4 linked regions of the Homo sapiens genome follow. The protein of the gene in region 4 purifies or fractionates together with the protein of the main gene of each other region. This does not show direct contact. Each region holds a gene or a part of one and is shown on either strand. Other genes may lie near its edges.

Region 1 (4,660 bases), on a different chromosome or scaffold from region 4:
GTCCACATTTTAAATCCTCTTAGCATGGATTCTTAGAAATGAAATTACTGGATCAAGAAGTACTTTTAATACTTTTAAGATTATAGATACATATTGCTATTCTAAAAAGCTATGTTAATTTACATTGGCCACCAGCTGGATAGGGTGTCCCTCTGTGCCTCTGAGGTGGTCCCTAGTGGTCTCTGCCCTTGGAATTCACGCCCTTGTGTGGTCCTGTGTTCACACTGTACCAGAGTTGGTCTGTGTGACCCAACAGCATATGGCAGAAGTGCTGGTATGTCCCTTCTTTCAGATTAGGTTATAGAAAAGATGGTGGCTTCCATCTTGGGTGCAACTGCCCTTGCGTCTTTCTGTCACGGACCATTTGCTGTGAGCAAACCTGTGGAGGCCCACAGAGAGGAATGGAAGCTTCCTGCCAACAGCCACATGAGGGAGCTGTTTCTCCCATTTTATTCTTTGCTTTTCAATTTAGTATATAAACTTTAAAAATAATCCAATCTATCTTTCCCTATGTGATCTCTTTCATTACTTTTTGATTTAAAAAATGTATCAAAGCACTACATATTCATAGCAAAAAGATGGCCAAATAATTCTAAACAGTTTATAATGAGAAACAGTAGTTCCTTGCCTTCTCTTTCAGAGTCTCAGCAACTGTTATCAGCCAGAATTCGATCAGAGAAACAGAACCACTAGGAGCGATATAGAAAAGGAATCTATAAAGGAAACTTTACCTTACACAATTGTTGGAGCTTGCTGAACACTCTGTGTAAGGCTGTTGCTTCTGTGTTTGGTGTTGGGGCCTTAAGTCAGCAGCGCAGGCAGTCTGGAAGGGAAGACAGATTTCAAGTGGAGGACAGGAAAGAAAAACTTGAACCTACATCAGTCTCTTACCCTCGCCAAACCTCCAATTCAGATGATACAGGCACCCTGCAGAAGAAGCTGGTGACCTTTACCACAGAGCTAAGCATGCGCCTGGCCCAGGAGTGGCTGAAGCTGAAGGAAGTCACTCCCAAGTTCTTTCCTAGAATCATGATGTGAATATAGGAAAATAATGAAATCACTGACTTTATTTTCTCAGCTGGTCATTCACTCCCTTTCAAGGGTTTAAGAACTACTATTTATAAAATATTCTAGATATGTATAGACTAAAAGCCAGCGGTTGTTCACCACCAGTTGGGCACTTATGCAAACAAACGTGTGTGTGTGTGTGTGCTTATTGTAAAAAATTTGGAAAATACTGCTTGTTAGAGAAAATTTGGAAAATACTGCGAAGTATAAAGCTGAAAAAAGTAGCTGCAGAAAACCTCTGTTGACATGTTAAAATTCTGGAGGAATTTCCGTCTTTTTTTTTTTTTTTTTTTTTTTGAGAGAAGGTCTCACTTCTATCACCCAGGCTGGAGTGGTGGCACAATCATGGGTCACTGCAGCTCAAGTGATCCTCCACCTCAGCCTCTTAAAGTGCTGGGATTACAGGCATGAGCTACTGTGCCTGGGCTCCTTCCATCTTTTATAAAAGATGCTTCTTGTTTGCAGAATTGCTATCATACAGTTCTACATTCTGCTTTTTTCTCTTATTTATTGTGAACCTTTCCGCTACTACGAGCAATCTTCCTTGTGGGTCACCATTAAGAGGTGCTTAAATAAATTACTGTGCATTTATGCATCTGACCCAATAATTAATGGCCCACCTCTTGTGGGTCATTTGGGTTCCTTCTCTTGGCACAGACCTTCTCCTGGCTTATATTTCTTGGGTGTAGGAGGTATACCCTCCTACCAAAGGTATGGCTCACACACCTGGTATGAAGTAAACAGCACAGTTCTTCAAACATCCCCAGGGCAGCCAGACAAAATCCACAAAAATGCCTCTCCCTTTTCTGGGCATGACAGAAACTTCATTCTAAGCGTGTGCAATGTTTATATGTAGACACAACACACATGCATGTGTATAAAGCAAATAAATACATTTCCCTCTATTGTTCATTTGATTTCACCTACTTACGGCTGAAGTGGAAAACTTATTAGGCCTGGAAAAGCCTTTCACAGCCAGGAACTGGAATGGTTTGGGATAATTTCCTTCAAATACTCATATTAAGCTTTATTTGTGTTAAGAGAACTATTTAAAACTCATCTTAAAAACATCTTGTTTAAAACAATCTTAAAAACAATCTAATACTAACCCAGAATGTAACAATCTAAATTTTACTTGACTATTCACAATAGAATTTAAAAGTTTCAGCCAAAGTTAATATGAATTAATAACTAAAATATCAACAAGCATTTTAGTTAACAGTATCTAACTCAGACCCTACAATCAGCATCTCCCATAAGCAAGAACCGGGGTTAGGTTATGTGGAAGTTACAAAGATGAGTAAATAAAACACAGCATCCCTGTCATCCCAGGACCAAAGGGATAGGAGTGAGGATGATGGAAGTAGAAACTTAAATGTGATGACAATAGGATAGAGATTGATTCCAAAAAGGCATGGGAATCTGGAAAGTTCTCAAAGAAAGAATCCGAAGGTGTTAAGAAAGGCCTTTGGAAGGTAGAATTGGAGAGAACAGTATGAACAAGGACTCAGAGCCAGAAAAATTGGGCGGGCATACAGGGGAAAGATTTTAGTGGTAATGAGGAAACAAGGCTGGGAACACAGACCAGGGCCATATCAGGTCCGGCCTCAGCAGGAGAAATATAAGCAATGGGAACCATCACACTGGGTGAAATTCAATCTTTATTTTAAAAGATGGTACACAACCATCTGCCAATTTATAAACAGATGATCAATTTATAGATTTTTAAAAGTCTACATTTTAATAAATGTTTTACATTGTGTTCATTTTATTAGCCATTTTTTGATTTTCCTAAAATCTGTTACTTATTAATGATGAATCTACTCCAAAATCTTTTTTTTTTTTTTTTGGAGATGGAGTCATGCCGTCACCCAGACTGGAGTGCAGTGGCGCGATCTCGGCTCACTGCAGTCTCTGCCTCCTGAGTTCCAGCGATTCTCCTGCCTCAGCCTCCCGAGTAGACTAGCTGGGATTATAGGCGCACGCCACCACGCCCAGCTAATTTTTGTATTTTTAGTAGAGACGGGGTTTCATGTTGACCAGGCTGGTCTCGAACTCCTGACCTCAGGTGATCCGCCTGCCTCAGCCTTCCAAAGTGCTGGGATTACAGGCGTGAGCCACTGTGCCCGGCCTCTACTCCAAATTCTAAGTACGATACTGTTTTGGTTTTAAATACCATTTTTGGTTAAAGAGCCCCATTTAAATTGTTTAAATGAAATAAATACATCCAAAGTAAATGCACGGTGAAAAATACATTTTAATCCAAAAGTTTTGAATATTGGCACTTAGAAAGTTATTTACAATCAATTTTACTATACCCTTTGTGAATAAAGAGATAATTATGTACGTGTAGCTACCTATAGTTGTTTCTTTCCAACTCAAACACCATAACTATGTGGAAAAAGGGTAAGAGTTAAAGCTGCTGCAGCTCAAAATCATTACAATCAACTTAGATTCTGCAAATTTTCCCAGGGTTGAAAAATGCTGGTTAAATCAGGACAAAAGAGGAGGCAAGTGAGTACACCCCACTCCTCTCCCATTTTACGTGTTGCTCCCTTACTTAACCGGCAAAGACCTGCACCTGAATTCTAGACAATTTCATATACAACAGGCCTCTTATTATGGGTCCATAGCAGATGGTTTAGGGTAGATGTTTTAAAGATATCAATGCTAATGGCCTACCAATGACTTTCATGACCTCCCAATATTCGTTTTAATGGTAGTCAAGAGACTATCAAGCAGGAAGCCTGATCTCGACATGTTTCCTCTGCGGCTTTGGTGAAGCTGACTATCTGCAGTATAAAATCTTATGGTTTGATCGAAGTCTCATTTTTGACTAGAAACAGTAAAGAGCAGCTTTATTAAGATCAATGGAATGGTTCTGAATGCCTGTTTCTACAGAAGGATTAAATTAAAATTTTTTCTTTTTTTTCTTTTTTGAGACAGTCTTGCTCTATCACCCAGGCTGGAGTGCAGTGGCACGATCTCGGCTTACTGCAATCTCCACCTCCCGAGTTCAAGCAATTCTCCTGCCTCAGCCTCCCGAGTAGCTGGGATTACAGGCATGCACCATAACACCCAACTAATTTTTGTATATTTAGTAGAGACAGGGTTTCATCATGTTGGCCAGGCTGGTCCTGAACTCCTGACCTCAAGTGATCCATCCACTCAGGCCTCCCAAAGTGCCGGGATTACAGGCATGAGCCACCGCACGTGGCCTAGATGAAAGTTTTTAAAAGCCTGGGCTAATAAAATCATCCACCAATCATTTTTCTTATGGTTAAAGCAGCCAAAAAGCTGTCACAGCATTTTTGAGATGAGAACATAAGGCTTGTGTGGCTTTATGATAGATGCTGTTAGTCATTTTATTTGATTAAGCCCTTGGTCAGTCATCTATACCTTAATTAATATTTTGTTCTTATAGAAAAATACAATCCATTTTATGAGTTTCTAGAAATAAATAATGGAGAAAAATAGATACTACCTGTTCCTAATGGTCTCTCTGGAAATTACAGCTTTTGCCTAGGAAGATACACATATAGAATATAATTTAAGTTCAAAATATATTTCATTATATTCTATCCCTTTTAAT
Region 2 (8,566 bases), on a different chromosome or scaffold from region 4:
TGGTTATAAAAACTGTAATTATTCAGCCAGGCACGGTGGCTCACGCCTGTAATCCCAGCACTTTGGGAGGCCAAGGCGGGCGGATCACGAGGTCAGGAGATTGAGACCATCCTGGCTAACAGGGTGAAACCCCGTCTCTACTAAAAAATACAAAAAATTAGCCGGGCGTGGTGGTGGGCGCCTGTAGTCCCAGCTACGCGGGAGGCTGAGGCGGGAGAATGTCATGAACCCAGGAGGCGGAGCTTAGAGTGAGCCAAAATCGTGCTGCTGCACTCCAGCCTGGGTGACAGAGTGAGACTCCATCTCAAAAAAAAAAAAAAAAAACTAATTATTCATATAGAAGTCTATTAAATTACAGGCATTCCAAGTAATACTTTTTATTATCAAAAATAATAGGGAGAAAGATGAAGTGATTTAATCAAAACAGGAAACCATCATGCTGATGACTTAATGACTCAGAAGACTGAAAATTTGCTTCCCATCAAAAAGCAATGGGAATCATAGTATTTTCAAATCATATATAAAAAAAAAACTTAATAGATGCCAACAAACTGTCAGCCAAAAATAATCTTTTTTTTAAAAAAGGGCACACCTAACCTTAAAACATCTCAACTCTCAGTATTTTCTGCAGTTTTCAGCCCAAGCCTCTTGCTAGAATAAAATGTCATGTTAATGAAATAAATAGTCACCCAATGATAAAGGTCAGAATAAATTACCTTTGTGAAGAAGTATTGACTGGAAAGGAGATGAAACAACCCACTAGAGTGCTATAAAAATGTTATATATCTTGATCTGCGTGATGGCTACAAAACAGGTGTACACATATGAAAATTTATTGAACTGTACGCTTGAAATTTGTGCATTACACTGTAAGTTACACCTCAATGTAAAAGAAAAAAGTTAACGTGAGAAGCAGCAATCTCACAATGACATTTAGGGAACAAAGTATTATAAACTAAAATAACTACAAATCAAAGTTTGTCTGCCTTTTAGCTTTAAATCTCAGTTTTGCAAACATTCTCACAGGTTGGGGAAAGAGATGTCCATGAGGACTTAAAAAAACCCACAAAGACAAGATTCCAATAAACCGTCAGATAAGCACACTTAACCTTTAATCATAACATATTTTCAATAAGTTTTCTGAATATTTAAACAAAGTGTACTTTATTAGTAGTATGAACCTTAAAAGGAAATCAGCTTCTCAAGATGGAGTTAAACACTCTGGATGACCGTTATAAGGAGAATTGTGAACAACTAAGTATTCAGACTAGGTTACCTCTAAAAGCCCCTTCCCTATTTTGAAATCCTATGACTTTAGAAAACCAGAAAAGTGCAGCCGGGCACGGTGGCTTGCACCTGTAATCCCACCATTTTGGGAGGCCAAGATGGGAGATCACTTGAGATCAGGAGTTCGTGACTAGCTTGGCCAACATGACGAAACCCCGTCTCTACTAAAAATACAAACATTAGCCAGGCGTGGTGGTGTGCGCCTGTAGTCCCAGCTGCTTCTGAGGCTGAGTGAGGGGAATCGCTTGAACCCAGGAGGTGGGAGGTTGCAGTGAGCCGAGATCACGCCTCTAGCCTGGGTGATGGGGGAGACTCCGTCTCCAAAAAAAAAAAAAAAATGCAATTTAACTTACCATCAGATTAAACCTAAGGTTTACCTTTTAAATGGAAAATCACTGACAGAGAAAGTTTCAATAGATTACTACTCATACTATTAATACTTACTCTAGCAAATTCCTTAGGGTATTTATGAAAATAAAATAGAGATAAAGATTGGCCGGGCACAGTGGCTCACACCTGTAATCCCTACACTTTGGGAGGCCAAGGTGGGCAGATCATTTCAGGTCAGGAGTTCAAGGCCAGCCTGGCCAACATGGTAAAAACCCCATCTTTACTAAAAATATAAAAATTAGCTGGGTGTGGTGGCACACACCTTTAATCCCAGTCCCAGCTACTCAGAAGGCTGAGGCATGAGAATCGGTTGAACCTGGGAGATGGAGGTAGCAGTGAGCCAAGATTGTGCCACTGCACTCCAGTCTGGGCAAAAGAGTGAGACTCTGTCTAAAAAAAAAAAGTAGAAAGAGCTTCATTAAAGAGTACTACAACATATTGCTATTAATGATAAAATAATTTTTGAAAAAAAAATTTTTTTTTCAGACACAGTTTCACTCTTGTTGCCCAGGCTGGAGTGCAGTGGTACTATCTCAACTCACTGCAACCTCTGCCTCCCGGTTTCAAGTGATTTCCTACCTCAGCCTCCTGAGCAGATGGAATTACAGGTGCCCACCACCACACCTGGCTAATTTTTTGCATAATTAGTAGAGATAGGTTTTATTTTATTTTTTTTTTTTAGACGGAGTTGTGCCGCTCTTATTGCCCAGGCTGAAGTGCAATGGCGTGATCTCAGCTCACCACAACCTCCACCTCCCGGGTTCAAGCAATTCTCCTGCCTCGGCCTCCCAAGTAGCTGAGATTACAGGCATGTGCCACCACGTCCGGCTAATTTTGTATTTTTAGTAGAGACGAGGTTTCTCCATGTTGGTTGGGTTGGTCTCGAACTCCCGACCTCAAGTGATCCTCCTGCCTCAGCCTCCCAAAGTGCTGGGATTACAGGCATGAGCCACCGTGCCCGGCTGAGACAGGTTTTCATCATGTTGGCCAGGCTGGTCTCAAAAACTCCTGACCTCAGGTGATCCATCCGCCTCAGCCTTCCAAAGTGCTGGGATTACAGGCATGAGCCACAGTGCCGAGCCAATTTTTGAAATTTTTTTTGTATTTTATTCATACTACAGTCAAACACATTCAGAATCTTAAACAGCATCATACAGCAAAACTTAGTAGGTAAGTTTTGATTGAATAAAAATTTCAAAAAAGCATTCTTAAGATGAATTTTTATCCTAATAGTTCCCTATAAGAAGAAACCCACCACCCAAATTTAGCATAATTTGTTCTTTAGTACCATAGGTTTTCATATAACTATACTAGACAATTCTTGACACAGTGCTTACTTACTAACATCATTACCTGACTGATTAAAAAAAGTCTCAAGCTGTATTTTAGCGTAAGACCGTACTTCCCAAATTTTTTAGTAAGAGAATTTTGACCTGACACTAATTTTAAAATGTATCATAAAAGATAATTTAAATATGGTTACTCTGTTTTTTTGGAAACAGGGTCTTGCTCTGTCACTCAAGCTGGAATGCAGTGGTGTGATGACAGCTCACCGCAGTCTTGACCTCCTGGGCTCAAGCAATCCTCCTGCCTCAGCCTCTTGATTAGCTGGGACTCCAGGAGTCCACCACCATGCCAGGATTATTTATTTTTTAATTTTTTGTAGAGATGGAGTCTCACTATGTTGCCTAGCCTGGTCTCGAACTCCTAGGTTCAAGCAATCCTTCCACCTCAGCCTCCCAAAGTGCTGGGATTATAGGTATGAGCCACCACATGCCACGAATTATTCTCATGTTTTTCCTTACAAGTGAAATCTTCCTGGCCACGCATGGTGGCTCACGCCTGTAATCCCAACACTCTGGGAGGCTGAGGCGGGTGGATCATCTGAGGTCAGGAGTTCGAGTCCAGCCTAACCAACATGGAGAAACCCTGTCTCTACTAACAATACAAAATTAGCCAGGTGTGGTGGCAGGCACCTGTAATCCCAGGTATTTGGGAGGCCAAGGCAGGAGAATCACTTGAACCCGGGAGGCTGAGGCAGAAGAATCACTTGAACCCGGGAGGTGGAGGCTGCAGTGAGCCGAGATGGCACCACTGCACTCCAGCCTGGGCAACAAGGGCGTGACTCCATTTCAAAAAAAAAAAAAAGTGAAATCTTCTAAAAGTAACTGCAATTTAAATAAGAATAAATTTTTATTTCAAAATAGTATATAAATTATAAGATATGAAAGGCCACAAGAAGAAGTTGTTTTACAAAATTCCCAGATAATTAAGCAATAATAAATTTGTATTATTGTAGTAACAAAACATATTTTAGCCGGGCGCGGTGGCTCACGCCTGTAATCTATAATCCCAGCACTTTGGGAGATCAAGGTGAGCGGATCACGAGGTCAGAAGTTCGAGACCAGCCTGACTAAGATAGTGAAACCCCATCTCTACTAAAAAATACAAAATTAGCCTGGTGTGTTGGCACATGCCTGTAATCCCAGCTACTCGGGAGGCTGAGGAAGGAGAATTGCTTGACCCTGGGAGGCAGAGGTTGCAGTGAGCCAAGATCAGGCCATTGCACTCCAGCCTGGACACAAGAGCAAAACTCCATCTCAAAAAAAAGAGAAAAAAACATATCTCAAGGTTATTATAATCTCAGCTTGCAGGTCAGTTAGTTTTTTTTTTTCACATTAGGGAATATAATGTTAAAAAATTAACACAATTTCAGCAAAAACTTGTCTAAACTCTTCACCCTTAAGTTTCTGAGCTGTTTGGTCATCCTACTGAATAATGATGGCCTCAGTCAGCCATTAACACTACATACACGTATTAACAAAACTAATATATACCACACATAAGAATGCTGAGAAACATGAGTTTCTTTAATATGCCAAATTTTCTCTTTTTTTTTTTTGAGACAGGGTCTAACTCCTGTGGCCAAGGCTGAGGTGCAGTGGCGCAATCACAGCTCACTGCAGCCTTGACTTTCCGGACTCATGTGATCCTCCCACCTTAGCCTCCTGAGTGGTTGAGACTACAGGTGTGCACCACCATGCCCAGTTAGCTTTTCTGTATTTTTAGTAGACATAGGGTTTCACCATGTTGCCTGGGCTAGTCTCTAACTCCTAGGCTCAAGTGATCCTCCCACCTCAACCTCCTAAAGTGCTGGGATTACAGGCATGAGCCACCGTGCCTGGCCCAAATTTTCAATTAAGTAACAAAAAAAAAGATGACAAGCTCAACACAGAACATTGTACACTCAGCACAAGATAACATTAGCAGGCTAGAGTAATTTATTTTGCATATTGTATATCACAGAGCCTGATAAATATTAATATTTAGTAATTAAATATTGATCTCAACAAATATAAAATAAGTTTTAAAGATAACTTTGAGAACTGTCATTTCCATTTATTCAAATGTGCATTTCATTGTCCTTTTTTTTTTTGAGACCGAGTTTTGCTCTTGTTGCCCAGGCTGTAGTACAATGGCGCGATCTCAGCTCACCACAACCTCCGCCTCCTGGGTTCAAGCAATTCTCCTGCCTCAACCTCCCGAGTAGCTGGGATTACAGGCATGCGCCACCATACCCAGCTAGTGCATTTCATTGTCAAACAAATCCTCTATTGGAAGCAATGTTTCCTACCAAATCTATTTGATATTCCTAAATTCACAAGCCTGTGCTCTAATTTCTAAACCAGTATGAGCCTCACCTTGCTCAAAGCATACAGATCCAGGATTTTTCTCTCTACCACAGGGATCTTCAGAGTAGATCCTTGAAGTTCCCAAAATTTTGCTAGTTGATCCAAGAAATCCAATCTCACTCTGGTCATTGCCTAAGATTATTAAAATACAGAAGAACTAAGTTATGATTGAAATGAATAAGAATAACAGAGCAGGGGTCCCCAAACCCCAGGATGTGGACCAGTACCCATCAGCGGCCTGTTAGGAACCCAGCCACACAGCAGGAGGTGAGCAGCGGCAGTGGGCAACCAACCGGGCAAGCATTACCACAAACCCTATTGTGAACTGCGTGTGAGGGATTTAGGTTGTGAGCACCTTTTGAGAATCTAAGTAATGCTTGATGATCTGAGGTGGAACAGTTTCATCCCAAAACCATCCTCCATACCCCCATCCATCCATGGATAAACTGTCTTCCATGAAACCAGTCCTTGGTGCCAAAAAGGTTTGGGACAGCTGTAATAGAGGTACTCATTTCTCTAAAGAAATTCAAAGACTTTTTTTCATTATTGCTTATTTCAACCCTGTAAAACTAGCCAATAGTAAAACTAGCCAATAATAAAGAGGCAAAAGACTTCTAATAAACTATATTTATTCAGGCAAAAAAGTTACTCTGATTTATGTAAAAAGTTGTCATATTAGCAACCAAAACAATTTTTGTAAGTTGGTTTAACTCTATGCTGATCAGAAAATTCAGTAGATCGGATTCTCTTCAGTCTCTAACGTTCTGTCATTTCATCCATATGTAACATGCACACTTTAGGTGCATCAACTCTATACCTCACTGATACTAATATGCTTTGTCAAGTATCTAATTACAAGAGACTAAAAAGAAAAAATATGCATTGCGGCCAGGCGCGGTAGCTCACGCCTGTAATCCCAGCACTTTGGGAGGCCAAGGCGGGCAGATCACCTGAGGTCAGGAGTTCCAGACCAGCCTGGCCAACACGGCAAAACTCCGTCTCTACTAAAAATACAAAAATTAGCTGGGCATGGTCGCTGTAATCCCAGCCACTAGGGAGGCTAAGGCAGGAGAATCGCTTGAACCCGGGAGGTAGAGGTTGCAGTGAGCCGAGATCGCACCACTGCACTCCAGCCTGGGTGACAGAGCAAGACTCTCTGGAAAAAAAAAAAAAAAAAAAGTATGTATTAAACTCTCAGAAATGTTTTGGGGAGAAAAGAAAAAAAACTTCAGAATGACATAATAAACCTTTGCTATCAATAATTTTCCTTCTGTACTCTAAAAGTTTTCATATCACAATGAAGAACCTTCTGAAAACCCATAAACAGAAAAAACAGCAAAACGTACACTTCCATTTAGAAAATTTAAGATAAATTAGTAATACTTAAAGTAATTAAAAAATAATACTTAAAGTAATTAAAAAGTAATACTTAAAATCTTAATAAATCAGATTAACACTCCTGGCAAAGTTCCATTAAAACCAAAACCAAAACCAAACCAAAACAAAACAAACTCTGAAAACTAGGGTTTTAAAATAGGATTTAAAAATCCATTTTCCAAGAACCGAGGGAGAAAGAAATCTTCCAAGATTAACAAAAATTTTAGTAGAGTAAGAAACACTAGAGAAAGTAGAATTTAAGAATTCTAAGTCTCTGAAGCTAAGCATTGAACATTTCTCAGTTAAATGGAAAAACCATAACAACTTTGCACAGTTTTTAAAAAATCATACTCTTCCTCCAAACATCAAGTAACTATTCCATTCAATACCAATTAACACAAACTCTAGGCTGTGGTACATGAGCTTCTCAAAGTTCTCTACCTACAGCCCTAATATAAAGAATGAATCAGGAAGCAGAAATAGTGACAAAACACTTACCTCAAGTTCATTCAGGCGCTGGACTCTTGGAGTGAAACGAAAGCTTTTTACTTCACAGGCAAATGGAGGCTGCCAGTCCTAAATAGAAAGATTTTTTTAAAAAAACACAGTGGTATGTAAACAAGGAATGCATTAATTATTCCCTTAAAGGGGGGTTTTGCCACAAATCATGGTGCTAATAGACTAACTTACAAGTCTTCTTTATTATAGAGACAGAATGAGCAATTCTTTTCGATAAAATAATTTTAATACAGGTTGAGTATCCCTCATCTGAAATGCTTGGAACCAGAAGTGTTTTGGATTTCAGATTTTTCCATATTTTGGAATATCTGCATATACATAATGAGATATCTTGGAGAAAGAACCAAGCCTAAATACAAAATTCTTTTGTTTCATATAAAGTTATACATAGGCTAAGGTAATTTTATGCAATATTTTTAATAATCTGGTGCATAACGCTTGTGTATACTGGACCGTCAGAAAAGAAAGGTGTCAGTAGCTCAGCCACCAGTGTGGACAATTTGTGGTTGTCTGGCATCACCATCATTCCTGACTGTGAATTTACATGCTACCAATAAACAATCATTTCCTTACACTTATTTCCACTTAAGTAGTTAACAGAAAAAATATACCATACCATTAATACAATGAAAAAAATAATCTGTTCAAGCTGGGTGCAGTAGCTCATACCTGTAATCCCAGCACATTGGGAGACTGAGGCAGGAGGATCGCTTGAGCCCAGGAGCTTAAGACCAGCCCAGGCAACAGAGCGAGACCCTATCTCTATAAAAGAAAAAGAAAAAGAATAATTCAGATTTTGGATGATTTCGGATTTGGAATTTTTAAAGTAGGGATGGATGCTCAACCTGTATTGCTCAGAGAAGCAATCCTCTTCAAACCAGTCCCACCGTTTACCTCCCACAATTATGCTTTCCCAAGTTACTCAAGTGGAATTCAATGAGGTCATGTACCACAAAACAGTATCTAGTAAACATTCAGGTTTACCAAGATCAAAAAAAAAAAACTTGTGTTTAAACTAAAAAGGGTAAAATTTAAGATTAAAAAGAAACTTTTAAGAACTTATTTATTTAAACGATTTTTTTTATGTTATGTGTAATGTGACAGAGCACTTTATGTTACACAAATGTTTTGTTCAAAGCCCAGCTTCTGGGAACCCAAATATTCAAAAAACACGCAGAACAAGGACAATTTCCAGACTGTGATATAACTAAAATTAGATAGCATATTTCAAGTGGGGTCTAAATAACATAGTTTGATTTGGCCTAAATAACAGAATAACAGTAAACCTATTTTAAAACGTT
Region 3 (8,566 bases), on a different chromosome or scaffold from region 4:
TTCATTTTCTACTGAAATGTATTCTTATCAACAAAGCCCTCTCCGACCACATTACATGAAACTGTAAGTCCCCTGCACCACCCACCCTGTCACTCCCAATCCCTTTTACCCTTATTTTTTTCCAAAGCACTTTTCACCATCTAAAAAGCTACATATTTATCGCGTCTCCAGCCTGTAAAAACAGAAGCTCTGTGTGGGCAGCAATTTCTTTGTTCACAGCTTTAGCCCCAGGATTTAGAACACTACATAGCTCATTATAAAAAAAAAAAGCCACTCAATAAATATTTACTTAAATGAAGGAACGAAAGAAAAAAGAGTGAAGGAGGAGGATGGCAGGAAGGTTCAAACTTCATACTCCCCATGTATACCTAAGTGCTGAATCAGTAGCATGCGCCGCTGTCGTAGTGATGACTGGAGACTGAGCTCTGGTGGCTGAGACAGTTGCTACCACAGCAGGAGGGATGGCATTGGAGGTGGTCACAGGTGGCCGAGACTACCAAAAGAGAAAAAACAGTTCATTTAAAACAAAAATAAAATAGAGGAAGTCAAATACTAAATGTGTAATTTGAAACTTGAGCCTACAGATAAGCATGTTTCTGCCCAAGTAAAAATAAATTCTCACCATTCCAATTAAGGAATTCTCTTTTCAGATAGGTTGTTATAAGACCAAGAGCCAGGCCGGGCACGGTGGCTCACGCCTGTAATTCCCAGCACTTTGGGAGGCTGAGGTGGGCAGATCAACTGAGATCAGGAGTTAAAAGACCAGCCTGGCTAACACAGTAAAACCCTGTCTTGACTAAAAATACAAAAAAAATTAGCCGGGTGTGGTGGCACGCGCCTGTAATCCCAGCTACTCAGGAGGTTGAGGCAGGAGAATCGCTTGAACCTGGGAGGCAGAGGTTGCAGTGAGCCAAGACCGCACCATTGCGCTCCAGCTTGAGCAACAAGAGAGAAACTGTCTTGAAAAAATAGAAAAGAAAAAAAAAAAAGACTAAGAGTCAGAATTATTAAAAAAAAAAAATCCCTTAAGATACCACTGACAAGTGTTTTGAAAAAAAAAAAAAAATCCCATTTTGATTGAACAGTACATGAGTCCCTCCTGTACAAATGTGATTGGAGTCAAAATTCTGCCCTACTATTGGTACCAATGGGATCTCACCCTTCAATCTAGAGTTGCCACAGGTCTGTTGTTGGTCCTGGTGTAGACATTTTACGCTGCCATCCAACCCAGCACCTCCACAGAGGGCCTACTCAGCTGCTGAATAGAGCTGTTGGCTCTCAGGCCATCTACGTTAGTGAGTACAAGGGCAACTCAAGGTAACAGTATTCTTTTCTAGGTAATCGTTCAGGGTGCCCATATCCTTTCTGGATGTTTTCACATGGACAGAGTGCCCTTATCACACTTACGTGTGAAATCTTCCTCTAAAAAATAAGCTCCACACTGGGCTTCATCCACATACCCACCATTATTCTTCGAATCACCTGAGTTCTGATTCTTCCCTTGCTCTTAACCCTGAAACATGCATCTAAATGGCCGAGCTCTGCCCATTCCTCATCCTTGCTTTTCATCTACAGCCCTTTTACCTGCCGCTTCTACCATGTGCAGGTGCGTGTCTCACACTAGGGCTACAGCACCAGCTTCCTCACTCGGGAGCTCCTTGTCTTGGTTCTCGTCTTCCTCCAACCCTTCATATGTATCACATATACTACTAGAGGCCTAATACTCCTCCGACTCTGTTTTCTTGGCCAGAAAAGTATTTATCTTGAAAGCTGTAGGCTAGACAGATACTACCCAGTATCATAATCAAGACTTCCTTATTATCTTAAACCCAGTTGTTTCATACATCTGTCTGTCCCCTGAAAGTGCTTAAGGGGACAGACCTCCTGTATGTGATTCAGCTAGATTAATCTTATCTTTCTTATTTTTTGTGAGATGGAGTCTCACTCTCTCGTCCCAGCTAGAGTGCAGTGGCACGATCTTGGCTCACTGCAACCTCTGCCTCTCGGACTCAAGTGATTCTCCCACCTCAGCCTCCCAGGTAGCTGGGATTACAGGCACGCACCACCATGCCCAGCTAATTTTTTGGCATTTTAGTAGAGACAGGGTTTCACCATGTTGCCCAAGGCGGTTTCAAACTCCTGATCTCAGACAATCCGCCCGCCTTGGCCTCCCAAAATGCTGGGAATTACAGGTGTGAGCCACTGCGCCTGGCCTAATCTCATCTTTCAACAGTATTACTTTAATGATACACAGAGCCATTGTGTTAAAAAGACAAAAATGATTTTTGGCCGGGCACAGTAGCTCACGCCTGTAATCCTAGCACTTCAGGAGGCCGAGGCAGGCAGATCACTTGAGGTCAGGAGTTCGAGACCAGCCTGGCCAACAGGGTGAAATCCTGTCTCTACTAAAAGTATAAAAATTAGCCGGGCATGGTGGTGCACACCTGTAGTCCCAAGTACTTGGAAGGCTGAGGCAGGAGAATCGCTTGAACCCAGGAAGCAGAGGTTGCAGTGAGCTGGGATCGCACCACTGCACTTCAGCCTGGGCAACAGAGTGAGACTGTCTCAAAAAACAAAAACAAATAAACAAAAAAACGCAGTGGCTCTCTACTGTATATAAAGTCTAGTTTATACTCCATATCCTAGAGAACCCAATTTATAGATACTATATTTCCTGCAAATATATTATACTTCAGTAATAATGAGGTCATAGATTTCCTTAAGAAAAAGCTGAATGGCATGGACCATGTTCTTGGAATATACATAGATATACACCTAACTTTTAGGAGTCCACAGATCCCCCCAATCCAAATTAAAATCCCTCAATCCTAGCTAGCCTTTACTAACTGCTGTCTACAACCATCACTCCCTTCCTTGCCACTGTTCATTTCCCCCTTCACTTCCTCTTCACTTCTCTGATTCCTCGTTAGCACAGCCTTTCCAACAGGAAGGCTTCCCACCATCTCTCCTCTGCATTCTTACAGCTTGCCACATGACACTGTGCATCTTTCAAACTTCCCTATGTCTTGGCAACTAGATGGAAAGTCCCTGAGGTCAAGGATGTGCCTAGTGCCTGGCAGAATGAATAACTCCAATGAGGCCCTTAATGCACCCCAGGCTCCGACGTGCCTGGATTGGTTGGTGAATGATGTGCTGTACTGCTGGCTGAGCAGTAGCAGCATTTGGCAGCTGTGAGGTCGGCCTCAGGACTGTGGTTACTTTAGAACTGGACATCACAGCAGCAGCAGCTGCACCTGAAAAAAAAAAAGTGTTTATTATATTTATTCTAGTTATATTCCCTGGGAAAATAATCAGTATGTTTCCCAAAACTCAGATAGCATGTCAATATCGAGCTGAAGTATGGTATGTATACTTCCCATTTCATCACAGAGAAAACAAAGAAAATGTGTATTCAAGAGATTTAATAATAATTTATATTGCCTCTTCACAGACAACCTTAAGTGAAACTAGCTGCTGTTTTTTGTTTCTGTTAACTGCAAGTGTGCACAGTGGTAAAGCACACAGGGAACAGCAGTGTGATGCCACTGCCTCAGCTCTGACGAGGCTCGGACACTTTGCCTTCCAGTCTTTGTTCCATTAGAGCAGACGTCGACATTGCCAAAGGGACACATTATGAACCTTAACCTTAAACCTAACCCTGCACTTTTCACCCTGCAGACCCCCATAAGGGCCTGTGAACCACATTTGGAGAACTGCTGAGTTATGCTATAACCAAGCAAACCTGGTCTTGCGTTTGCTAACTTGATTTTGCCAACAATCTCCAATTGTTGTAAAGTCTCCAATAAAAGGTAAAAATTTCTAGTCAAAATTCATTTATTACCTCACAACCTATTAGAACTTAAGGGTAAAAATAAATTAATCTTAGCCATGTGGTGGCTCACACCTGTAGTCCCAGCCACTCAGGAGGCTAAAGTGGGAAGATCGCTTGTGCCCCAGAAATCTGAAACCAGCCTGGGTAACCCAGTGAGGCCCCATCTCAAAAAATAATTATCATCATCATTTTATTGTTACATAAGTTAAAAAACTGAGTAAAGATCATCACTGAACTTTAAAAATATTCAGTATTAATATTTGTGACTTATGTATTAAAAATAAAGACCATGTTGCAGATAAGCAGTCTAATAATAAAGACCATGTTGAGATTATCAAAGCTTGGGCAGTTCCTCAATATATAGGACAATTTTAGACCATATTAAACACTTTAATTGCATAAATATACACACTTGTAATACAACTATAATAAGCACATATTAAACCATGCTAAAAACATGGATTGCTCTAAGTTTATTTCTACTGTCTTGCGATTTTTTTTCTTTTTCTTGAGACAGGTTCTCGCTCTGTCACCCAGGCTGGAGTGCAGCGGCGCAATCTCAACTCATTTCAACCTCTGCCTCCCGAGCTCAAGCCATCCTCCCATCTCAGCCTCCTGAGTGCCATCCTCCCATCTCAGCCTCCTGAGTGCCATCCTCCTATCTCAGCCTCCTGAGTGCCATCCTCCCATCTCAGCCTCCTGAGTGCCATCCTCCCATCTCAGCCTCCTGAGTAGATGGGACTACAGACGCATGCCACCACACCTGGCTAATTTTTTGTATTTTTGTAGAGACAGGGTTTCGCCATGTTGCCCAGGCTGGTCTCAAATTCCTGGACTCAAGTGAACCTACCACCTCAGCCTCCCAAAGTGTTGGGTTTATAGACATGAACCGCAGCACCTGGCCTTTTTTTCTTTTTAAATAAAAGAGGTTTATTTGGTTCACGGTTCTGCAGACTGTTGTTCTGCAACTTTAACAAGCTGATTCTAGATACATTCTGTGTTACGTATTTTACCAAATGTATATCTACTACTACATTTTGAGAGTTTGAACAAAACTTGCAAGTCGTTACCTCGAGGTAAATGAGAAGCTCCAATGTGAAGAGGGGGCCCAGGAGCATTGCTGCGGATGATAGACATTTGCACATTTGTAGTCATGATGTGATGCAGGTTACTGGGATGGCCCTGAAAGAAAGAGGATAGAACGTTATTTTTACATGTTTGCTCTTAGCCATTGCCTCTAGGAAGTCACCTGCCTCCAAATGTGGGTCAGGTTGTTTTTTAGATAGTGAGTATCCCAAGAGAAAGGGCTAAGGACATTCAGCTTGAGCTACTTTTACATGCCATACCGTACAATGAACTGTGCTAACAGGCATGTGAGAAGTATGAGGACCCCACAACTGCTGCAGGCCCACATAATTACAGATAATATACTTCGATATCTACGTTTAGAAACTCTCATCTGCGATATTACCTTTCACACTTGTTTTCCCTGTTCTGGCCAAATGCTTATTTTTTTTCCCATTCTCACTATTTCCTTTACATACCACTGCATCCATCCATTCTTTAAGCTTTTTTGTTTCTAAGTAAATGTCAGTTGGTATCCAACAGGTGCTCCCTACCAGTTCTTCAGCTCAACCCTGAAATGTCCCTTACATTCTCCCAAACCACAGAGTTCAGGGCTTCTCAGCTAAGGGTTCTGGTACTTCTGAGAGTACTCAGCAGTATGACAAAAGGAAAAAACACAGTACACCTCTTTGGGATATAAATTTTTCTTGAAAATGTGAAGGGAAAGTTTTTAGATTTAGTTTTTTTCCCCAGGTAAAAAATGTAAAATATTTAATTAATCAGGTACACAGCAGAGTAGGATTGCAAAATTTCACAAAAAAACCTTAAAACAGAAGACTTCAGAATAAATGTTCGCAACTAAGGCTGGGTGCGGTGGCTCATGCCTGTAATCCCAGCACTTTGGGAGGCCGAGGCGGGCAGATCATTTGAGGTCAGGAGTTGGAGACCAGCCTGGCCAACATGGTGAAACCCCGTCTCTATTAAAATAAAAAAATTAGCTGGGGGTGGTGGTGCCCGCTTGTAATCCTAGCTACTCGGGAGGCTGAGGCAAGAGAATGGCTCGAACACGGGACGTGGACGTTGCTGTGAGCCAAGACTGCACCACTACACTCCAGCTTGGGTGACACCGTGAGATTCTGTCTCAAAAAAAAAAAAAAAAAAGTTTGGAACTAGAGAGCTGCTTGAGGTAACCTATCCCAAGAGATGCACATCTGCTCTCCTCAGAGAAACCACAGAGCAGCACTGCCTACCCCCGGAAGGCAGTTCTTGACGCTAAAACCAAACACGAACCGGACTCCGGACTCCTCAAGGACACGGACTGTTTTATCTAGATTTATATATCACACTAGGGTCGAATCGAGCATCTAGTAGCTGCTCAATAAATTCTAGCTAAATGACCACTATGGACACTGGCTTCTACTCCCTTTACAGTTATCCTTCTCTCTCAAACCTACTATCTTCACTTGCAGGTATCAGTGACTGTTTGATCTTTTTTTATTACCGTGACTAATGTACTGCTAGCATTCAATAAATCATGATCAACAGTTTGGCATTTCAGTTTGAAAATCAGCAAATTAAAAGGAAGAAAAACCTGTTGTCCACTGATTGTTGCCACAGGAATGGCTGAAGCTTGAGGGATGCTACTCTCCATGGTAACGGTAACCTGCCCTGGAACCTTGGGGGGAAGTGACAGGGTAGAAGGTGGAGCAGGAGCAATGGGACGGCTAGGCATGGTGGGCTTCGGGGGCGGCTGCAAACAGAAAACCACACAAAACATATCAATGGCCTCATACTGGTGATGCATTTCAATCCACAATTAAGAGTGCACAAATCGAACCTGGAAAGTGCCAGGAAAGATGCCGTAAGCTTTATACATTTTATCTATTATCATCACAGTGTTTCCACTGAAGTACTAGCATTTCTATTTCACAGATAAAGAAACATACAAAGCAAGGCTAACTGACTTGCTCAAAGCCACACACACAGTAAGAAGTAGAACTGGGAATAAAGCCCAGAGCTGTATGGCTCACAGCCCACACCCTTTCTTCTACATGATGCTGCCTCCCAAGTTTGGGTGGATTGAACAAAACTCCCAGTAACTGAAACACAACCCCAAGGTAATACACAGGCAATATTCTCAGAAACCCCCAAATTAACCAGTTATTAAAACAAACCTTAAAGAAGAGTGCCACTCCACTTGGTCCCATGGTACTGGGTTATCTGAACTTATAACATTACTGTCAGCTGGGCACAGTGGCTCACGCCTGTAATCCCAGCAATCTGGGAAGCTAAGGCGGGCAGACCACTTGAGGCCAGGAGTTTGAGACCAGCCTGGCCGACATGGTGAAACGCCATCTCTACTAAAAATACAAAAATTAGCCAGGCGTAGTGACGTGCGCCTGTAATACCAGCTACTTGGGAGGCTGAGGCTGCAGAACCGCTTGAACCTTGGAGGTGGAAGTTGCAGTGAGCCAAGATCGCACCACTGCACTCCAGCCTGGATGACAGAGAAAGACTCCGTCTCAAATAAAAACAGAAACAAAACATTAATGTCATTAAGCCCCCACTGCTAAATCTGACTGGCTTAAAAAAAAAAGAGGGTCCCTTCAAGATTGTATCTAACTTAACATGCCCATAAGTTGAATAATATCAGTATCAAAATGGATAACAGCAAAGATCCTATGATGCCAACTGCCCAGCAGCACAAGACAAGGCACTGCAGAAAATCAGGGCTGAGTTACAGAAAGGAGCTGAACTCATATGTCATAAAGAAAAAATGAAATGTGATCCTAAGATACAGCCTAAGATTTTATACAAATTGTTACAAACATTAGCCAGTCTCGAGCTCTGGTTCAGTGTGAAGTTTTAACCCTCTCCATTACCTTCATAAGTCCCTCCGAAAATGAAAGTGGCACTGCTGGCGTCAGGTGTGCTGGCGGGGCTGTCACTGCAACAGGTGTGGCTGATGCGACAGCATGGTGTGTCGACAACATCTGCACCTGTGGATAGGGCCTTACCACAACAGGCTCTTGCTTCTCCTCCCGGGACTGGAGGGAGCTGCTGGAACTCATGTGCTCCCTGGCACTGACTTCAGAATCTCGACCAGATTCATCATTGACTAGTAAAGACATTAAGAGTGAGACAGTATGTCACAGTCTCCCAGTGTAAGATAGCAGCACAGACAAGAGTGGTACCTGAAGTTAAATCTCAGGATTGACAAAGTGGCCATTTCCTTGTGATGTTTTCTTAACAAGGTCAATATGGGCACTGGATTCTCCTGATGGACATCAGACAAAAGAGCCACAACTGTGGAATATAGAATTTATTCTGGATATTGTAGCCTTATGAACAAACTACCTGAAAATCATCTAAAATGAGCTGAAATAGTTAAAAGTACAATACAGGATGTAAGACAATTTCATTTAAAACATCCTCTTAGAAAGTTATAAAAGCCTGACATTAAAAAGATATTTTATGCTGGCCAACATGGCAAAACCCTATCTCTACTAAAAATACAAAAAAAAAAAAAAAAAACAAACCAAAAACCAAAAACCACGTTTTTTTGTAATCCCAGCTACTTGGGAGGCTAAGGTGGGAGGATCACCTGAGCCCAAAAGGCAGAGGTTGCAGTGAGCCAAGATTCCGTCACTGCACTCTAGCCTGGGCGAG
Region 4 (8,566 bases):
TGGCTAATTTTTCTATTTTTAGTAGAGATGGGGTTTCACCATATTGGCCAGGCTGGTCTCGCTTGACCTCAAGTGATCTGCCCACCTTGGCCTCCCAAAGTGCTGAGATTACAGGCGTAAACCACTGCGCCCAGTCAGTGGCGGGGTTTGTTGTAAGATTCTCTGGGGATGTCCGGAATGATTCTCTGCTCAGGCTCACAGGGGGCTGCGTCTGTTTCTCCATGGTGCACAGGTTTGATGGCAGAAGGGGTCGGAACGAGCAGGGTGTGGGTATGTAGGGAAGCAGCATGGAGCCAAGGTCTGTTTCAGAGGCAGCTGTAGGCTCACTGCGAGCCCCCCACCATTCCAAGGAGGCATTTCCAAGCTCCGCATGCACCCTCTGATCCCCTAAAGTGTGCCACTGCGACAAAATGGGGAACCACGCTCTAGACCAGGGCTTGGCAAAAAGAGCCAGATGGGACGGTACAGCCACCACGAGGGACAGTGTGGCAGTTACCTCAACAGGTTGACCATGGAATTATTGCTACCATATGACCTGGTAATCCCACTCCCAGGTCTATAACCAAGAGAACTGAAAAAAGGTGCTCAGGCCAGGGACAGTGGCTCAGGCCAGGCGCAGTGGCTCACACCTGTAATTCTAGCACTTTGGGAGGTTGAGGTGGACAGATCCCTTGAAGTCAGGAGTTTGAGACGAGCCTGGCCAACATTGCAAAACCCCGTCTCCACTAAAAATACAAAAATTAGCCAGGTGTGGTGGTGTGCACCTATAGACCCAGCTACTTGGGAGGCTGAGGAGGAAGAATTGCTTGAACCCAGGGGGTTGTGGTGAGCCGACAATGCACCACCGCACTCCAGCCTGGGAAACAAAAGCAAAACCCCATCTCAAAAAAAAAAAAAAAAAAAAGCCAGGCGCGGTGGCTGGAACCTGTAATCCCAGCACTTTGGGAGGCCAAGGATGGCGGATCACGAGGTCAGGAGTTCAAGACTAGCCTGGCCAACATGGTGAAACCCTATCTCTACTAAAAATGCAAAAAAATTAGCCAGGCGTGGTGGTGGGAACTTGTAATCCCGGCTACTTGGAAGGCTGAAGCAGGAGAATTGCTTGAACCTGAGAAGCAGAAGTTTTAGTGAGCTGAGACCCCGCCACTGCACTCCAGCCTGGGCGACAGAGCGAGACTCTGTCTCGAAAAAAAAAGAAAAAGAAAACACGTGTTCCAACACATCCTCACACATGAATGTTCGTTGCAGCACTATGCACAACAGCCAAAAGGTGGAAACAGGCCAAACATCCATCAACAGAAGAGTGGGCATGCGAAATGTGGTCCTGCCATACAGTGGAGAATGATTCAGTCTTAAGGAAGGAAGCACTGATACCGGCTCCGATGTGAATGACCCCGGAAAACACGATGCTGAGTGAGAAGCCAGACACCAACAGCCACACGGTGTATGACCCCACTGATATGAAATGTCCATACGGGCAAATCCATAAAGACAGGAAGCAGACTCATGGTTGCCAGGGGCTTGGGGAGAGGAGAATTAGGAGGTTCAGGGTTTGATCCTGGGGTGATGTTAATGTTCTGGAATTAGTGGTGATGGTTGTACAGTATTGTGAATATACTAACACTTTAAAATGATGATGATTTTATGTTATGTGAACAGTATCACAATATGAAACATTTTTAAAAATTTAATCCTTTGAAAATGTAAAAATCACAACCAATCACACCGAGCCAGGCTGGCTTTGGTCTCCAAGCTACCATTTGCCGACTGTGCTGCTCTAAACCACCCAGCACAAGCCCAGTTTTCTTTTTCTTCCGGCACCTCCTCTCTCCCCGTGCCCTGGGTGGCCTCATCAGGCAGAGTTCGAACTGCCTCCCACACCATGACAACCATCCTGCGTGGCCGACACGTCCATCTGAGCATCCACACACAGCCCCGCCTGGGTACTGATTAACAGAGCCTCAAATGGCAGGCACCGCACAGACACATAGCAGCCCCCCAACTGCCCTGGCCTTATGCACCTCAGCAGGGGCCCACACTTTTACCCAGAGAATCAGGCATCCTGAGATCAGCCCAGACTTCTCACTCTCACTGACACCCCCGCTCCTGATCTACATCATCATCCACTCTGCCCCCATCACATGGGAACCCCCTCTGGTCCTTGTCACCAGTCACTCTGTCCCCATCACTCAGGGCACTTCTCTGGTCCTTATCACTGTCCACTCCGTCCCCATCACTCGGGGGATCCCTCTCCAGTCCTTGTTACCATCCACTCTGTCCTCATCACTGTCTACTCAGTCCCCATCACTTGGGGACTGTCTCTGGTCCTTGTCACCATCCACTCTGTCGCCATTGCTGTCCACCTCTGTCCCCATCACTCGGGAGGCCTTCCCTACTCCTTGTTACCATCCATTCTGTCCTCATCACTTGGGAATTGTCTCTGGTCCTTGTCACCATCCTCTCTGTTCCCATCACTTGGGACCCTCTCTGGTCCTTGTCACCATCCACTCTGTTTCCATCACTGTCTACCCCGCCTCCATCACTTGGGGCCCCTCCCTGGTCTCCCAGGGGCCTCCTGACCCCTCATTCTCAGCACAGCAGCAGAACCGCCTCCCAGAACCATCCAGTGGTTCTCACGCTCCTGGCTCCCTCTCCCCCTTCTCTCCTTCAGCTCCTGACCCTGCCGTTCTCCTTGGCTGTTCCTCAAGCACACCCACTCACTCTCACCTCAGGCCATCACTCCCCACCAGGAACAGTCCCTCATGAAACAGGTCCTGCCCACAGCAACCTCCTCCCACCCTTCCCTGGCCTGCTCCATCCTCTCTCTGCCCTCTCCCATGCGCCACCCGCATCTGCCCATCTGTTTCTCATCGGACCCCCCACCTTGACTGTGCAGGAACCCTGAAAGCAGGGCCTCTGAATAAACCCCAGGGCCTGGCTCGGAGAAGGGGTCACCGCCTGCTCCATGAGCCAAGAAGATACAAACACAAGAATCGACTTGTTGACAACTAGCGGGACTTCCCCCAGAGAACAGCCAGGGGGCTCCCTTTGAATGTCGAGGGGCTGCTTAAGTTAGGAGCTGCACGTTAAGGGGTTATCTCTGTCTCTGTCCAAGCCAGCTGTCATCTTCCACGAGGCAGGGTCTGCCCTGAAGAGGACCCGCTAGCTGAGAGCGGCCATGTTCCCACCAGCATCCAGTTTCTCATTCCTGCACCATGCACTGCTCCCTGGCGACGTTCCAGAAGGTGGATACAGTCATGAACAAGACAGTGCAGGGCCCACCTCATCTTAAGGACTCACCGTCAACCAAGGAAGGAAAACCAATAAGAAACAATGCATTCTGAACTTCTTTTCCTAGCCGTTTTGAAATACATAACCCAGGGTGGTGTAAGAATGACACAGGGTAGGGACTAGGGGGCTCTCTGTGGAGCTGACATTACAACCAAGGCCTGAATTACCAGACAGTAAATGATGCTGACTCAGGAGGCCAAGGCAAGGCTCCAGTAAGAAGCTGTTCCTTCCTCCAAATTCCCCAGGTCGTCACTGGCCACACACCACGGCCTGTGTCTGTCTTCCCCTTTAGACTCGTGTTCTCAACCTGAGCAACTCTGCCACCCAGGGGACACTCGGCAACACGGGAGACACTTTAGGTTATCACATCTAGAAGCATCTGGTGGGTGGAGGCCAGGGAGGCTGCTCAAATACCCTTCAGTGTGCAGGACGGCACCTCGCCATAAAGAACAGTCTGGCCCCCAAAGCTGAAGACACCCTGCGCCAAAGGCTGCCCGAGGCTGGGACTCTCTTATTCACCTTCCTTACCACCTATGGGCCACTCCCTACTTGTCAGTAGCTGGCAGGCTTTGTGATAAAATTGGGGGGGGAAAAAGATACTTCAAAACAGTCAAACTAGAAAAACTAAGCAACAGAGAATACTGGCCAGGCGTGGTGGGTCACACCTGTAATCCCAAAACTTTGGGAGGCCAAGGCAGGAGGATCACTTGAGTCCAGCCTGGACAACATGGTGAAACCCTGTCTCTGTTTTAAAAATGTAAAAAAGGCCAGGCACAGTGGCTAACGCCTGTAATCTCAACACTTTGGGAGGCTGAGGTGGGGGATCACTTGAGGTCAGGGGTTCGAGACCAGCCTGGCCAACATGGTGAAAACCTGTCTCTACTAAAAATACAAAAATTAGCTGGGTGTGGTGGCACATGCCTGTAATAGCAGCTACTTGGGAGGCTGAGGCAGGAGAATGACTTGAACCTCAGAGGCGGAGGCTGCAGTGAGCTGAGATCACGCCATTGTACTCTAGCCTGGGTGACAGTGAAATGGTGTCTCAAAATTAAAAAATAATTCAATTAAAGTAAAAAAAAAAAAAAAAAGAACTTTGGGAGGCCGAGGTGGGCAGATCATGAGGTCAGGGGATTTCGAAACCAGCCTGACCAACATGGTGAAATCCCATCTCTACTAAAAATACAAAAATTAGCTGATAGTGGTGGCAGGCACCTGTAATCCCAGCTACTCAGGAGGCTGAGGCAGGAGAATCACTTGAACCCGGGAGGCAGAGGATGCAGCGAGCCAAGATCGTGCCATTGCACTCCAGCCTGGGCAACACAGCGAGACTCTGTCTCAAAAAAAAAAAAAAAAAAGATGGCCAGGTGCAGTGGCTCATGCCTGTAATCCCAGTACTTTGGGAGGCCGAGGCAGGCAGATCACGTGAGGTCGGGAGTTCAAGACCAGCCTGACCAATATGGAGAAACCCCGTCTCTACTAAAAATACAAAATTAGTCGGGCGCGCTGGTGCATGCCTGTAATCCCAGTTACTCAGGAGGCTGAGGGAGGAGAATCGCTTGAACTGGGGAGGCAGAGGATGCGGTGAGTCGAGATTGTGTCATTGCACTCCAGCGTGGGTAAAGAGCGAAACTCTGAAACTCTGTCACAAAAAAAAAAAAAAAGAAAGAAAAGAAAGAAAGAAAGAATATCACCAGGGCCTCTGTGTGTGGGAAACCCTGTGAGGCTTTCAGACGATGGCCTCTCAAAGGACTCCAGGGAGCCGAAAGCTCAAAGGACTCCTGAAGCCACGCGAGTCATGGCCTGGACCTGGGATATCTCTCATGTTTCTGTCCTGAAGCCACACAAACAACAGCCCAGACTGCTGGGAAACAGGGCTGGAAACCTGACAGCACCTGTGTCAATATCAACTGGAAGCCAGTGGGCTCCCAGGGGCCCCCGAAGAGAACAAACTTCTACACCTAAGCCTGGAAATGACTGTTCCCAGGCTGCAGCACGATGACCAAGGCCCTGCTGAGTAGCTACTAAGTGAAAGTTCTTTTCAAGCCTTTCCCCAAGTCGATGGGTCTGCACCGTCATCATTGTCACCTAAGCCACCTACGGGGAGACAAGACTGCCAGCCCTCCACGGTTGGGGACCCGCAGCTACTTAAAGGAAGAGCCAACTCCAAATACAACCAGTGTGGCGCCTGTCAAGATCTAGCCCTGAAAGCCGAGTTACTCCACGGGCAGGGACTCTGCTGAAAGGCAATTTCCACATGCAGGACGCACAGTTCACATCTTTTCACTCTGGCTCTTTCTGAGTGAGTGACAGGAACGAGACCCAGAGTTTCCACAGCATTCAGGCTCTGCAAAGTGCTCTGGTGGACGCTGCTATTGCAAATGAGCTTGGCTTTCTCCCGCAGTCGTGACTGTTCTGGAGATCAGTCTTGCTAAGGCTTTCATGGTCTAAGACACAAGCAGTACATCTGGATCCTGGGGCTTCATTTGCAAACAGGAAATGGAAGGCTCTTCAGAGTTCAGTGGCCACACGCTTCCAAGTTCCCCTTTAAAGCTGAGATTCAGCTGGGTGCGGTGGCTCACACCTGTAATCCCAGCACTTTGGGAGGCAGAGGTGGGCGAATCACGGGGTCAGGAGTTCGAGACCAGCCTGACCAACATGGCGAAACCCCCATCTCCACTAAAAATACAAAAAAATTAGCCGGGCATGATGAAGCGTGCCTGTAATCCCAGCTACTCAGCACGCTGAGGCAGGAGAATCTCTTGAACCCAGGAGGTGGAGGTTGCAGGGAGCCGAGATTGCGCCACTGAACTCCAGCCTGGGTGACAGAGCGAGACTCCTTCTCAAAAAAGGCAAAAAAAAAACCCTGAGACTCGCTCCTTGGCTTTCAGGAGACAACAGGCTGATGGCAGAGAGGGTCTTGCACAGAGAAGCAGCAGAATTTTTTTTTTTTTTGAGACGGAGTCTTGCTCTGTCACCCAGGCTACAGTGCAGTGGCACAATCTCTGCTCACTGCAACCTCCGCCTCCCAGGTTCAAGCAATTCTCATGCCTCAGCCTCCCAAGTAGCTGGGATTACAGGCATGCTCCACTGCGCCTGGCTGATTTTTGTACTTTTAGTAGAGACAGGGTTTCACCATGATGGCCAGGCTGGTCTTGAACTCCTGACCTTGTAATCTACCCATCTCGGCCCCCCAAAGTGCTGGGATTACAGGCGTGAGCCACTGCGCCTGGCCGAGAAGCAGCAGAATTGACACACACCTTGCACATGGAATTAATACAAAAGCACTGCCACATTACCCTTCGCTGTTCTCTTTCCAACTGACTGCGGAGTGTCAGATCCCTAATTGATTGGACGCTCTATCATCTCTTCCATCAAAGAAGACCTACCAAGTGCTTCCAGCAGTAGATTCTGACACTCCCTGCTAAAACTCTCGAGGCAAGGACTGGAGGAGGTTGGGAGAGCTGGTCCACTTACACCGGTGGTTCTCAACAGGGGCACTTTTGCCCCCCAGGGAGACACCTGGCAATGTCTGGAGACATTTCTGGCTGTCAGAACTGAGTGAAGGTCTGGTAGGTACACGCTACAGATCCTGCTAAACACCCCACAATGCACTGGGAAGCCCCCAACAGCAAAGAATTATGCCTTAAATGGGAAATAGTGTTGAGGTGGAAAAAATGACAATGGTCATCTTATAAAAGGAAATCTTAAGTAGGCTTTCTTTTTCTCAGAGGCGCTAGTAAGCTCAAGCATGAAGAGACTGCAGAGATAGAAGGGGCAGTGAGCCAGGCACAGTGGCTCACTCCTGTAATCCCAGCACTGTGGGAGGCCAAGGTGGGCACATCGCTTGAGGCCAGGAGATCGAGACCAACCCTGGGCAACATAGTGAGACCCTGTCGCTACAAAAAAAATAAATAAATTAGCTGGCCGTGGTGGTGCACGCCTGTAGTCCTAGCTACTTAGGAGGCTGAGACGGGAGGATCACTTGAGCCCAGGAGGTTGAGGCTGCAGTGAGATATGATGGCACCACTGCACTCCAGCCTGGGCAACAGAGTGAGAACCTGTCTTAAAAAAAAAAAAAAAAAAGGAGGCTGGGCACGGTGGCTCACGCCTGTAATCCTAGCACTTTGGGAAGCTGAAGCAGGCAGATCACTTGAGGTCAGGAGCTCAAGAACAGCCTGGCCAACATGAAGAAACCCCATCTCTACTAAAAATACAAAAATTAGCTAAGCATGGTGGTGCACACCTGTAATCCCAGCTACTCGGGAGGCTGAGGCAGGAGAATTGCTTGAACCTGGGAGGCGGAGGTTGCACTGAGCTGAGATTGCGCCACTGCACTCCAGCCTGGGTGACAGAGCCAGACTCCGTCTCCAAAAAAAAAAAAAAAAAAAAAAAGAGGGCCAGCACCTATCACCCAAGAAAAAAGGGACCAAAGCAAAGCCAGGAGTCCCAGCTGAGCTAATGATCCTATCAACAATTAAATGAAACACAGCCAACATAAACGTGGCTACTCACACACCATCTCGACCACTTTATTTTGTAGGTGGTACTGAGAGTGATCAGAGGCAGACGAGGACATGCTTAAATACAAGGGCAAGCCTGCCTGGTATGCTCGCTGGGAAAGCCTCAAGCCAAGACCTCAGCAACTGCTGAGGTGGTTATTTAGACTTCACACAAAATTCTGCGTTAGGAGGATACCTCCCTGACATCCACTCTTGATTTAAATCTTCCAAACAGATCAATTTGGGAGGCAGAGGCTGCTTGTGTAGGTGTTTCCATATCTATTTTGATTTGTGCTAGAAGCAATGAGCACGTCTAGAAAAAGAACAGATCTTAAGTGGCTTTCTAGCAATGATACAGGAGAGACACGTGGCCCAACCTGAGTAGCAAGACATACTCGGTGAAGGCTGAGATCACCCGAACCACTGTAGTGGCATACCTGGCTTGTCAGAGGCGACTGTATGTTTAACTTGCCATTCTTGGGAATGTCTATTCTATATCCGAGGGGAAGAAAAGCGTTGAATCCAACAATGAGGTCAGGGTGCTCGTGGAAGAGCTGCGAGACACGTCTGATGACTCCAGGAGTATCGATGCTAGAAGAAACAACGGAAGTGGGCAAAAGGGTCTTGGGAAATAAATGAAAAATATAATCTATTCCCCACTCCCTTGATACTGCCACATAAAAACCTTCTCAACAGACAACAAAGGAACCTAAAATGTGACCCACCAGGCGCAGTGGCTCATGCCTGTAATCCCAGCACTTTAGGAGGCCGAGGCA

Evidence for each region.
Region 1: the proteins of SIN3B (region 4) and GATAD1 purify together in Homo sapiens (affinity purification with mass spectrometry; 5 studies listed by BioGRID and IntAct, with this or other methods). This does not show direct contact.
Region 2: the proteins of SIN3B (region 4) and KDM5A purify together in Homo sapiens (affinity purification with mass spectrometry; 4 studies listed by BioGRID and IntAct, with this or other methods). This does not show direct contact.
Region 3: the proteins of SIN3B (region 4) and SAP130 purify together in Homo sapiens (affinity purification with mass spectrometry; 3 studies listed by BioGRID and IntAct, with this or other methods). This does not show direct contact.

The regions. Positions count from the first base shown.
Region 1 is NC_000007.14:92,457,482-92,462,141, reverse strand, and holds the end of GATAD1 (GATA zinc finger domain-containing protein 1), read right to left. Parts: 3' UTR 2,067-4,660; downstream 1-2,066. UniProt on the Homo sapiens protein: Component of some chromatin complex recruited to chromatin sites methylated 'Lys-4' of histone H3 (H3K4me), with a preference for trimethylated form (H3K4me3).
Region 2 is NC_000012.12:378,653-387,218, forward strand, and holds part of KDM5A (lysine-specific demethylase 5A), read right to left. Parts: intron 7,323-8,566; coding exon 7,245-7,322; intron 5,502-7,244; coding exon 5,379-5,501; intron 1-5,378. UniProt on the Homo sapiens protein: Histone demethylase that specifically demethylates 'Lys-4' of histone H3, thereby playing a central role in histone code. Does not demethylate histone H3 'Lys-9', H3 'Lys-27', H3 'Lys-36', H3 'Lys-79' or H4 'Lys-20'.
Region 3 is NC_000002.12:128,009,901-128,018,466, forward strand, and holds part of SAP130 (histone deacetylase complex subunit SAP130), read right to left. Parts: intron 8,016-8,566; coding exon 7,780-8,015; intron 6,648-7,779; coding exon 6,489-6,647; intron 5,015-6,488; coding exon 4,903-5,014; intron 3,255-4,902; coding exon 3,130-3,254; intron 494-3,129; coding exon 369-493; intron 1-368. UniProt on the Homo sapiens protein: Acts as a transcriptional repressor. May function in the assembly and/or enzymatic activity of the mSin3A corepressor complex or in mediating interactions between the complex and other regulatory complexes.
Region 4 is NC_000019.10:16,831,309-16,839,874, reverse strand, and holds part of SIN3B (paired amphipathic helix protein Sin3b), read right to left. Parts: intron 8,382-8,566; coding exon 8,228-8,381; intron 1-8,227.